Regions from separate parts of the Homo sapiens genome. Here region 2 is linked to region 1. The links come from fine-mapping of genetic effects on gene expression. A gene starts in region 1. The other region holds a variant in brackets. All regions are shown on one strand. Distances are between the middles of the regions. Region 1 holds the start of C9orf40 (chromosome 9 open reading frame 40). Region 2 has its middle 23 kb from the start of C9orf40.

Region 1 (5,000 bases):
ATTGTGAAAAAGTAGTATGAATTCCTAAGTCTAGACCAAAGCTGTCCAATAAATATATAATGCTCCAAAAACATAATTTAAAATTTTCTAGTAGCTGTATTTAAAAAGTAAAAGAAACTTCTGGTATTAATTTTAATATATTTTCTTCAATATAGCCAAGTTATTTCATGTGTAATCAATATAAAATTGAGCTATTTTATCTTCATTTATTAAATCCACGAAATTTCGTGTATATTTTAAACTTAGAGCACATTTCCATTTGGACTAGTCACGTTTCAAGTGTTCTTACCGGCTAGCGGCCGGGCAGCAGAGATCTAGGCAAACCGAGGCATACCTAGATCTTCTCAGGATTCTTACATGCAGAGATGAGGCAGGCTCATGTCTTGAATAAAAACCCGCCAATGATTCTCATATACGCCTTAAGGCCCAAATTAATTTTCTTTTTTCTTTCTTTTCTTTTCTTTTTTTTTGAGACAGCGTCTCACTCTGTGGCCCAGGCTGGAGTGCACTGGCCCAATCTCAGCTCACTGCAACCGCCATCTCCCAGGTTAAAGTGATTCTTGTGCCTCAGCCTCCCGAGTAGCTGTGATTACGGGCATACACCACCACACCCAGCTAGTTTTTGTGTTTTAATAGAGACAGAGTTTCACCCTATTGGCCAGGCTGGTCTCGAACTCCCGACCTCAGGTGATCCACCCGCCGTGGCCTCCCAAAGTCCTGGGATTCCAGGCGTGAGACACCACGCCCCGCCCCCAAATTAATTTTCAATGATACTTTTGCCTAGGATCAGATTTAACACTATGAGTTAAAACAAAGCTTTGACCAAGGTACGGTGGTCCATCCTTTTCTCCAGAAGCTGTACCAGCCGGTAGGACGTTCAATTAATCAATGGCTACCACACTGGTCTCCCTCTAGAAAAAGAACTCTATCCCGAATTCTAGACTAATCATCGTTAAACCCAGGAAGGCCCTCTACACCTTTATCTGTCGTTTGTCTTTGGGCTGAACCTATGCCCTGACGGTCTGCGTTCTCGCCATGCTCACAGCCCGCCACGACCCACGGTCCCGTTTCCCTTTTACGGAGCGCGGCGCTGACGCCGCAAGGCCACTTCTATCGCTCCCGACCACGGTCTGTTTCCCCCTCGCCCAGCCCAGTGCTTTCTGCCCATCGGACTCTCGGGGTGTGCTTCTGGCGGTCGGCGTCCTCTCCCGGAGCGGTGACCCCTTCTTTCAACCCCCTCAGGCGTCTTAACCTACACAAGTCATGAGTGGGAACCGGGGCGTTTTGTGTGTGTGGGGAAAAGGCAAGCCCCTTCGCCCCTCAGCCCACCCGCCCCCAGCCCCTACCTGGCGCGATGCGACCCCCCAGTCTCCCCGCGGGGGTCCTGCGCGCCCCGCCCCGTCGTCGCCACCGCCCCCCGGGAGCCGGGCGCCCGGGAGCTCCTCCCCCGGCCCCGGCAGTACGGGCGGCGGCGGCAGCGGCGGATCGCCTGTCTCCAGACCGTGGTCCTCACGCTCCTGGCCGCTCGGGGCGCTGTTGTCCCCGCTGTCACGGCGCTTGCTGGGCGAAGCCGAGGGCTCTGCCATGGTCCCTGCGTCGATTTTGCGCTTTCGGTGCTGCTCTGGGACGCCGAGGAGCTGCCCAGCATGCGCGACCCCGGGCGGCCGGATCCAGAGAGGCGGTGGCGGCGGCTGCTCAGCGAAGTCGCAAAGCAGGAGCCGCTTCCAAGGCACGTGGAACGTCACCGGCTCGGCCGCACGCCGCTTGGCCATGGGCCCAGAGGCTCGGGCGGAGCCCGCCAGGCGCGGGAGACCGAGTGCCGATAGCTGCGGGGGGCGAAGAGCGAGGACTGAGCGCGTGAGAGAGGGACAGGCCGAAGTCGGGCGAGGAGGCGACAGGACGCTGGAGGGGGTAGGGCGGGGCAGCTCGCGCAGGGCCTAGGGCTGGGGCTCCGGCTCGGAGGCAGCTCCCGCGCTCAGCCCTCGCCGCCGCCGAGATGCGGCCCGGACGTTGAGAAGCAACCGCGAAGCGGCGGAGATTCGAACCTGCGCACAACGTGCGCGCGCGCACTCTGTCTGGCCAGGCGGAGCCGCTGGTTGGTGGAGGCTCGCGGGGCGCGCTCCCGAGCGCCCTCGCGACCGGAAGTGCGCGCTCGGGGGTAGGCGGGAAGGCCGCGGCGGGATTAATTAAAGACCCGATCAAGCGGCCCGCAGAGGGGCGTGACCTTGTTTCCTCAGGAGTGTGGCGGTGGTCTTACTACTATGTTCGTTATAGCGCGGTACGTTCTAGACCCTTCTATAGGAAATTTAAAACCTTTAAAATGTGTATTTCCTTCCTCCAGTCAGTGACCACGGGGGCGTCTCCATGAGATTAAGACAAAGATTATAATAGAGTTCCAGACTATCCTGGGCAACATAGCAAGACCTCGTCTCTACAAAAAATCAAAAATAGGCCAGGCTTGTTGGCCTGCCCCTGTGGTCCCAGCTACTCGGGAGGCTGAGGAGGAAGATTCACTTGAGCCTGGGAGGTGGAGGCTGTAGTGAGCCAGAGATCGCACCACTACACTGCAGCCTGGGCAACAGAGCGAGATGCCGTCTCAAAAAAAAAAAAAAAAAAAAGGAAAAGGATAATACAAGCTTTAAATAAAACTAGTGTTTAAGAAGCTTCACAGTAGGTTGTTATTCAAAACAAAAGACTGAAGGGAGTCTGGGCTGAGGGAAGTAGCTAAAGCTAACAGAAAACACAAATCGAAGTGTATGTTTTGCATGTTTTGCGCAGCTGCTGTGGAAGGTGAAGCAGGCCCTACATTCCTGGAAGATCTCTTGATTAAAAACTTATGGAGGAAGTTACAGACAAAATGTGCAGCTCATCCAAAATAGCTGAGTAGTTGGCAAGAACCAAGCCTGAAGCGCAGCTGTCCTTTCTAACTGAAACCTAAAATTGTTGGGCTCTTAATTAATGTTGGAAGGCTGAGTTCCCTGCTTACTATGGGCGGTGGTCAGATCAAGATTCTATGGCCATTACAGCAAAATAGTGTTGTCAGGTGAAGTGAGGTGGAGACAATTGCAGTATATTTACTATTTTATTATTTTTATTTTTTATTTTGTTTGAGACAGGGTCTCTCTCGGCCACCTAGGCGGGAGTGCAGTGGTGCCATCACGGCTCACTGCAGCCGGGCCCCACTGAGCTCAAGCGATCTCCTGTCTGGGCCTCCCAAAGTGCTTGGTTTATAGGTGTGAGCCACCGCATCTGGTCGTATTTACTATTTTAATAGTTTGATAAAGACAGTAACCAAGTAAGCAGAAATGGAAGGAAGAAAATAAGACTATTACCAGTGCTTTGAAGGGAAAAACTATCATCCTCTGTAGAAAAAGTGTGCAAGAAAGATAATTCTATTTTAGTGCTAGGTACTATCTCAGTACTAATTTACCCTGTACCCCTGCATCTCAAGGTGGTTGTGAGAGGACAAGTTAATTATTAGTTATTAACAAGCACAGAAATGTACCAAGTTAGGGTAGTAAGCAATAGCTTTTCTGTTTGGTTTTTACTTTTCTTGTTTGAAATTGGTAACCGGCCGGGTGCGGTGGCTCACGTCTTTAATCCCAGCACTTTTGGGAAGATGAGGTGCACAGATCACCTGAGCCCAGGAGTTCCATACCAGCCTGGCCAACATGGTGAAACCCCATCTCTACAGAAAATACAAAAATTAGCCAGAGGTGGTGCCTTGCACCTGTAGTCCCAGGGAGGCTGAGGTGGGAGGATCGCTTGAACCCTGGAGGCAGAGGCCAAGATTGCACCACTGTACTTCCAGCCTGGGTGACAGTGTGAGACCCTGTCTCCAAAAAAAAAAAAATAAATTGAAAACCCGTCTGTCTCAAACAGAGGAAGAGTTTTGCCATTTTTAAATCAGCAGGAAAGATCTTAATCGTAGTCATCAAGTGCTGTTTGAAAGGTTTTGAGTACCCCCAAAATAATAAGTTTAGCTAATGGTTGGTTCTTTTGTGTTCCTCTTTACAAACGCTCATTTTTTCAAAATTGTGAAACTTATCATATATGCAAAAGGTTGTATAAAATACACATGTAGTTAAAAGAATGATAGTAAGACATACAGCATTCTGTTTCAGAAATAGAATACTACCTATACTAGAACATGACAAGCTCCCTATGCGTCCCTTCCCCACTGGCACATACCCTTCCCTTTCCCTCACTCCCGGTAATTACCGTTTTACATGTTGAGTTAATCATTCCTTTGCTTTTTAACTCTTCCATTTGTATGTCTGTATGTATATTGCTAAATAACTTTTTTTTTTTTTTTTTTGAAACGGGGCTTGCTCTGTTGCCCTGGCTGGAGAGCAGTGATATGATTACAGCTCACTGCAGCCCTGACCTCTCAGGGGCAAGCAGTCCTCCCACCTCAGCCTCCTGAGTAGCTGAGACTACAGGTGTACATCACCACACCCAGCTAATTTTTAAAATTTTTTTGTAGAGCCAGGGTTTTGCCACGTTGCCCAGACTTGTCTCAAAGTCCTGAACTCAAACAATCTGCCTGCCCTGGCCTCCCAAAGTGTTGGGATTACAGGCATGAGCCACCACACCCAGCTTAATATATTTTCTGAGACCAGGTCTTGCTCTGTTGCCCAGGCTGGAATGTAGTGGCGTGATCACTGCTCACTGCAGCTTCAACTTCCTGGCCTCAAGCAATCCTCCTGCCTCAGCCTCCCAAGTAGCTGGGCCCATGGCTTGTGCCACCACACCCAGCTAATTTTTTATTTTTAGTAGCAACAAGGTCTCACTATGTTGCCCAGGCTTGTTTTGCCGGGCTTTTTTTTGTTTTTGTTTTTAAAACAGCTTTACCTAGGTCTAAATGACACACAATAATGTGCATATAAAGTGTACAATTTGACATTCATACACCTGTGAAACCATAACCACCATCAAGATGATCAAAGTTTTGAGAGCAGTCTTTGACATCTTGTTCTTTAGGAGTGTGTCAACTATAC
Region 2 (5,523 bases), 24 kb before region 1:
GCTACTGGATATTTTAGAAAAAATTTAATATGAAGTAAAGAAAACAAAGCAGGGAGGAAAAAATTGTCAAAAAATACATCATTCCTGTGAGACTACATCAAACAAAAAGCTTCTGCAGAGCAAAGGAAACAATCAACAAAATGAAAAGGTAACCTATTGATCAGGAGAAAATATGTGTGAACCATATATCTGATGAGTTAATATCCAAAATATATAAGGAACCCACACAACTCAATAGCAAAATAATAATAATCATAACCTAATTTAAAAATGGGCAAAGACCTGAATAGACATTTCTCCAATGAAGACGTAAAAATGTCCAACAGGTAGGAAAATGCAAATCAAAACCACAATGAGATATCACTTCACACCTGTTAAGATGGTCATTACCAAAAAGGCAAAAGATAACAAGTGTTGGTGAGGATGAGGAAGTAAGGGACCGCTTCCACACTGTTGATAAGAATGTAAACTGTAAAAATGTAAATTTTTACATTTTACATAAAAATGTAAAAATGTAAATTTTTAAGTAGTTTTGTAGAGACTCGATCTCACTATGTTGCCCAGGCTTGTTTCAAACTCCCGTCCTCAAGGGATCCTCTCACTTCTGCATCCCAAAGTGTTAGGATTGGAGGCGTGAGCCAAGTGCTCAGCCTATGTGGAATCTCAAAAGAGTTGAATACATAGAAACACAGAGTAGAACGGTGGTTCCCAGGGGCAGAGGAAGTAGACTGGAAATAGGGTGATGTCGATTGTTTTGAAAACACTCCCGAACCGGTTTTCCCTCTGCTCTCCCCCGACAACAATCAACACAGACGAGTTCTGTGACCCCAAAACATGCGGAGATTTCTCCCCACCTGCAAGCAAGCAAGCAAGCAAGCAAGCAAGCAATCATTTCAGCAGCAGACACCAGCTGGGTGTCCCCCAGTTGAGTTCTGACACGGTCTTCCTGGAGATAGCGTCAGATCCCACAGGTTGAGGGCTCTCCCCGCAAGACTGTCCGTCCCCTCCTTCCCTCCAGTTACAAGTCCGGGCCTTCGGAACTTCTGACTGACTAGCTTCAAGTTGGAGTTCCTATGAGTCCCTCTTTGGGTTAATTTGCTAGAGCGACTCACAGAACTCAGGGAAATACTTACCTTCACCAGTTTATTACAAAGTAGATTTTAAAAGATACAAATAAACAGCCAGATAACGACATACACAGGGCCAGCTCTGAAAGGGTCCTGAGTGCAAGAGCTTCTGTCCCTGTGGAGTTGGGGTGTGCCACCCTCCCAGCACACGAATGAGTTCTTCTTCACCTTCCTGTTGGCCTCCAAGTGTTCAGTTCCCCGGAAGCTCTCTGAACTCCCTCGTTTGGGCCTATTACGGAGACTTCATTGGTTGTTCATGGTTGAAGCACGAACAATCGTGGCGAAATGTGATTGGATAGCCGGGCGCGGTGGCTCAGGCCTGTAATCCCAGCACTTTGGGAGGCCGAGGCGGGTGGATTGCTTGAGGTGAGTAGTTTGAAACTGGCCTAACATGGTGAAACCCTGTCTCAACTAAAAATATAAAAATTAGCTGGGCATAGTGGCTGGCGCCTGTAATCCCAGCTACTCGGGAGGCTGAGGCAGGAGAATCGCTTGAACCCGGGAAGCAGAGGTTGTAGTGAGCTGAGACCACGCCACTGCACTCCAGCCCAGCAACAAAGCAAGATTTCGTCTAAAAAAAAAATTAAAAAATAAAAATAATTGATTGCACAAAAAGGGTGTGATCTAAACCCAGCAAGGTCTGTCTGTTCAGTTCAGATTCTTCTTGCTCTCCGTGCAGCATTCCTTCCTCCAGAGTATGCAGCAAGACCGTATCTGGAATGAGGGTCTTACGACCCACAATCAGATTCGAGTGCTGCCTTGGGACTCTAATGAAAAGAGGGCAGGAGAAGGTCAGAGGGAGTGATTCTGTCACTTGAGGCCTACTTATGAGTCTTAACAAAAGACCGTAACAAGGGCTATGGGAGTTATGAGCCAGGAACTGTGGATGAAAACATATATACATATTAGGCTGGTGCAAAAGTAATTGCAGTGTTTAAGTTCTGTGAGCTGCACAGTGGCTTGCACCTATATTCCCAGTGCTTTGGGAGGCCAAGGTGAAAGGCTTACTTGAGGCCAGGAATTCGAGACTAGCCTGGGCAACATAGCGAGACTCCTGTCTCCACGGATAATGAAAAAATTAGCCAGACATGGTGGTTTGCACCTGTAGTCCTAGCTACTCAGCAGGCTGAGGCAGGAGGACTGCTTGAGTCCAGGAGTTCAAGGTTGCAGTGAGCTATGATTGTGCCATTGCACTTTAGCCTGGGTGATGGCATGACCCTGTCTTAAAAAAAAAATTAATTAATTTAATTAATTAATCTTCCAGAAAAATCTTCCAGAAAGTAGGGCAAAAGACAATAATTTGAAAAATAAATGGAAAAGCTATGAAAACTTGTAGACCAGCCCAAGAGTCCTAAGATAGAGAGAAGGGAAAAAACAGAGTCAAGGATATTATCAAGAAATTGATTCAAGAAAATTTCCCAGCATATAAGTCTAAATTCTAAATTGAGCATCCATCACAATGGATGAAAAGGAATTCAAATTATTGTGAAAGTCTACAACAGTGGGAAAAAAAAAAGCCCCTATAAGCTTTTGTGATAAAAATGTCATACAAAACTGAAGAATCAGAAAAGTATTGGATAACTCAATGGCAACATTGGAAACTAGGAGACAATGGTCCAGTGGCATCAAAAGTTTGAGGAAAAATTATTTCCAATGTAGAGTAACACATTCAGCTAGACAATAAAATGCAAAAGTGAATAAAAATATTTTCAGGTGTTCAGAACCTGAGATTTTCCTAACATTCTCACCTCTTAAGATTTACTAGAGGACTGGCTCCACAAAAACAATGGAATAAACTGAAAATGGAAAGTATGGTGTTCAGGGAACAGGGGAGCCAATATGAGAAAAAGTAAAAAGAATCCACAGGGTGAGAGGGAAAGGAGGCCCCAAAACAAGGGCTGTGCAGTAGGTGCAATGAGCAACTAGACAGAATTGAGCAGGCATGGAGAATGTGGGGAGATTTTCTTCAATAAGTTGCAAATGATAAAATACCTAGAACATGTTGAAAATAATTTACTAATCGGGGTGGGGGGAGATTGGGCTTGAAATACTAGAAAATACATAGACAACTAAGCAAGTTAAAAAAAAAAAAAACTAATTCCAGGAAAAGAATAATCATGGTGATATGGGTTGGCTGTGTCCCCACCCAAATCTCATCTTGAATTGTAGTTCCCATAATCCCCACATATC[G/A]TGGGAGGGACACAGTGGGAGATAATTGAATTACGGGGGCGGTTACCTCCATGGTGTTCTTGTGAGAGTGAGTGGGTTCTCAAAAGATCTGATGGTTTTATAAGGGTTTTCCCCTCTTTTGCTTGGCACTTCTTGCTGCCACCATGTGAAGAAGGACATGTTTGCTTCCCTTCCACCATGATAGTGAGTTTCCTGAGACCTCCCCAGCTCTGTGGAACTGTGAGTCAATTAAACCTCTTTCTTTTATAAATTACCCAGCCTCAGGTATGTCTGTAACGGCATGATAACAGACTAATACACATAGTATATTACAATTTCCTATTCTGTGCGGATAAGGAATCTTAGTATACTACGTATTCTCCTGTGAGTAGCATTTTCATAATACTGAAAATCCTGAATACGGAACTAGCCAAGGTTACAATATATCTATATGGAGAAATGTATGTGTGCGTATGTGTGGTGGGGGTGGCAAAAGGAGCTAAATTCTCAGCTTCCATGGTGAGTTATCAAAACAAAATACCTGAAGCTAACCAAGAAATAACAATAAAAACATGTTATTGAGGGATATAGAGCCATAAAATAAAATAATCAGCTGAAGGAATTGAACCTTGAACAAGCCAAGCAACACATATAAAAATGAACTTTAAAAAATAACAGTGAGCCGGGTGCAGTGGCTCACGCCTGTAATCCCAGCACTTTGGGAGGCTGAGGCAGGTGGGTCACGAGGTCAAGAGATTGAGACCATCCTGGCCAAAATGGTGAAACCCCGTCTCTACTGAAAACACAAAAATTAGCCGGGCGTGGTGGCAAGTGCCTGTAGTCCCAGCTACTCGGGAAGCTGAGGCAGGAGAATCACTTGAACCCGGGAGGCAGAGGTTGCAGTGAGCTGAGATTGCACCACTGCACTCCAGCCTGGTGACAGAGTGAGACTCCGTCTCAAAAAAAAACAAACAAAAAAAACTACACAGCAATGAAATCAGCCAGCCAGGAGATGAATTTTTTAAAATTGTGGGCCGGGTGTGGTGGCTCACACCTGTAATCCCAGCACTTTGGGAGGCCAAGGCGGGTGGATCATCTGAGATCAGGAGTTTGAGACCAGTCTGACCAACATGGAGAAATCCCATCTTTACTAAAAATACAAAATTAGTCAGGCATGGTGGTGCATGCCTGTAATCCCAGCTACTCGGGAGGCTGAGGCAGGAGAATGATTTGAACCCAGGAGGAGGAGGTTGCAGTGAGCCAAGATCACACCGCTGCACTCCAGCCTGGGCGACAGAGTAAGACTCTGTCTCAAAAAAAAAAAAAAAAAAAGTGTTTAAAAAAGAAACATCCTTGGAACACTAGAGGGCATTGGAAAATAAGAAATAAATACAAATTTAAAAGAGAAACATCTTGAGGTTTAGCAGTTTCTTCTATTTTATTTCAATTTCTTACCTTCTATTAAATTCAAGTAAAATTGCATGTAATACCTTTTATTTTAAGTGGCTTATTGCATGATAAGCCAATAAGCATTTTACAAAATTCTTTCTGTCTACCTTTCCTCTATGCATCTATATATTTCAATTCACCAATCCCTCTGTCCATCAAGAAGTTCTAGATGTGATGCTCATCTAGTGTTACTAAACATTACTTCTAAATTACAGTGATATCATAAAATTCTTTTTTGTATTTATCTGTGTTGCTTAAATTTTTACAAGTATGTTTCTTTTCAGTAAAGTCAAAGCCATTCTATTTTAAAATATTAAGAGATTTCAAGCTCACAAAAGGTCACAAGAGTATGTTAAAACAACACAAGAGTGTTCTAAACAACGTCATACTGAACAGGCAAAAACTGGAAGCATTCCACCTGAGAACTGGAACAAGGCAAGGATGCCCACTCTCATCACTCCTATTTCAAGTAGTACTAGAAGTGCTAGCCAGAGCAATAAGGCAAGAGAAAGATAAAAGGCATTCAAATAGGAAAAGAATTCAAACCATCTCTCTTTATGGAAAATGTGATCCTATAGCTAGAAAATCCTGAAGATTCTGCCAAAAGGCTCCTGGAACTGATAAAAACTTCAGTAAAGTTTCAGGATACAAAATCAATGTACAAAATAAATAGCATTTCTATATACCAGTTACGTTCAAGCTGAGAGCCAGAGGAAGAATGCAATCCCATTTAAAATAGCCACAGGCACAAAATAAAATACCTAGGGACACATCTAAC

Evidence for each region. PIP is the estimated chance that this variant, and not a neighbour inherited with it, causes the effect. A credible set is the group of variants that fine-mapping cannot tell apart.
Region 2: its variant is the best candidate, but not a certain one, in a credible set for the expression of C9orf40 in monocytes (BLUEPRINT, PIP 0.59).

What each region holds. Positions count from the first base shown.
Region 1 is chr9:74,950,840-74,955,839 of GRCh38, forward strand. It overlaps C9orf40 (chromosome 9 open reading frame 40), which reads right to left and starts at 2,073. Exons shown (of 2, transcript NM_017998.3): 1 at 1,347-2,073. The coding sequence starts at 1,772. It overlaps CARNMT1-AS1 (CARNMT1 antisense RNA 1), which reads left to right and starts at 2,126. Exons shown (of 5, transcript NR_121183.1): 1 at 2,126-2,278. RefSeq lists an enhancer at 965-1,034 and silencers at 1,365-1,574, 1,845-2,054.
Region 2 is chr9:74,926,677-74,932,199 of GRCh38, forward strand. No RefSeq gene overlaps it. Among named protein-coding and RNA genes, the nearest start is that of C9orf40, 23 kb to the right of the region's middle. The variant G/A (reference allele first, on the strand shown) is at 3,318.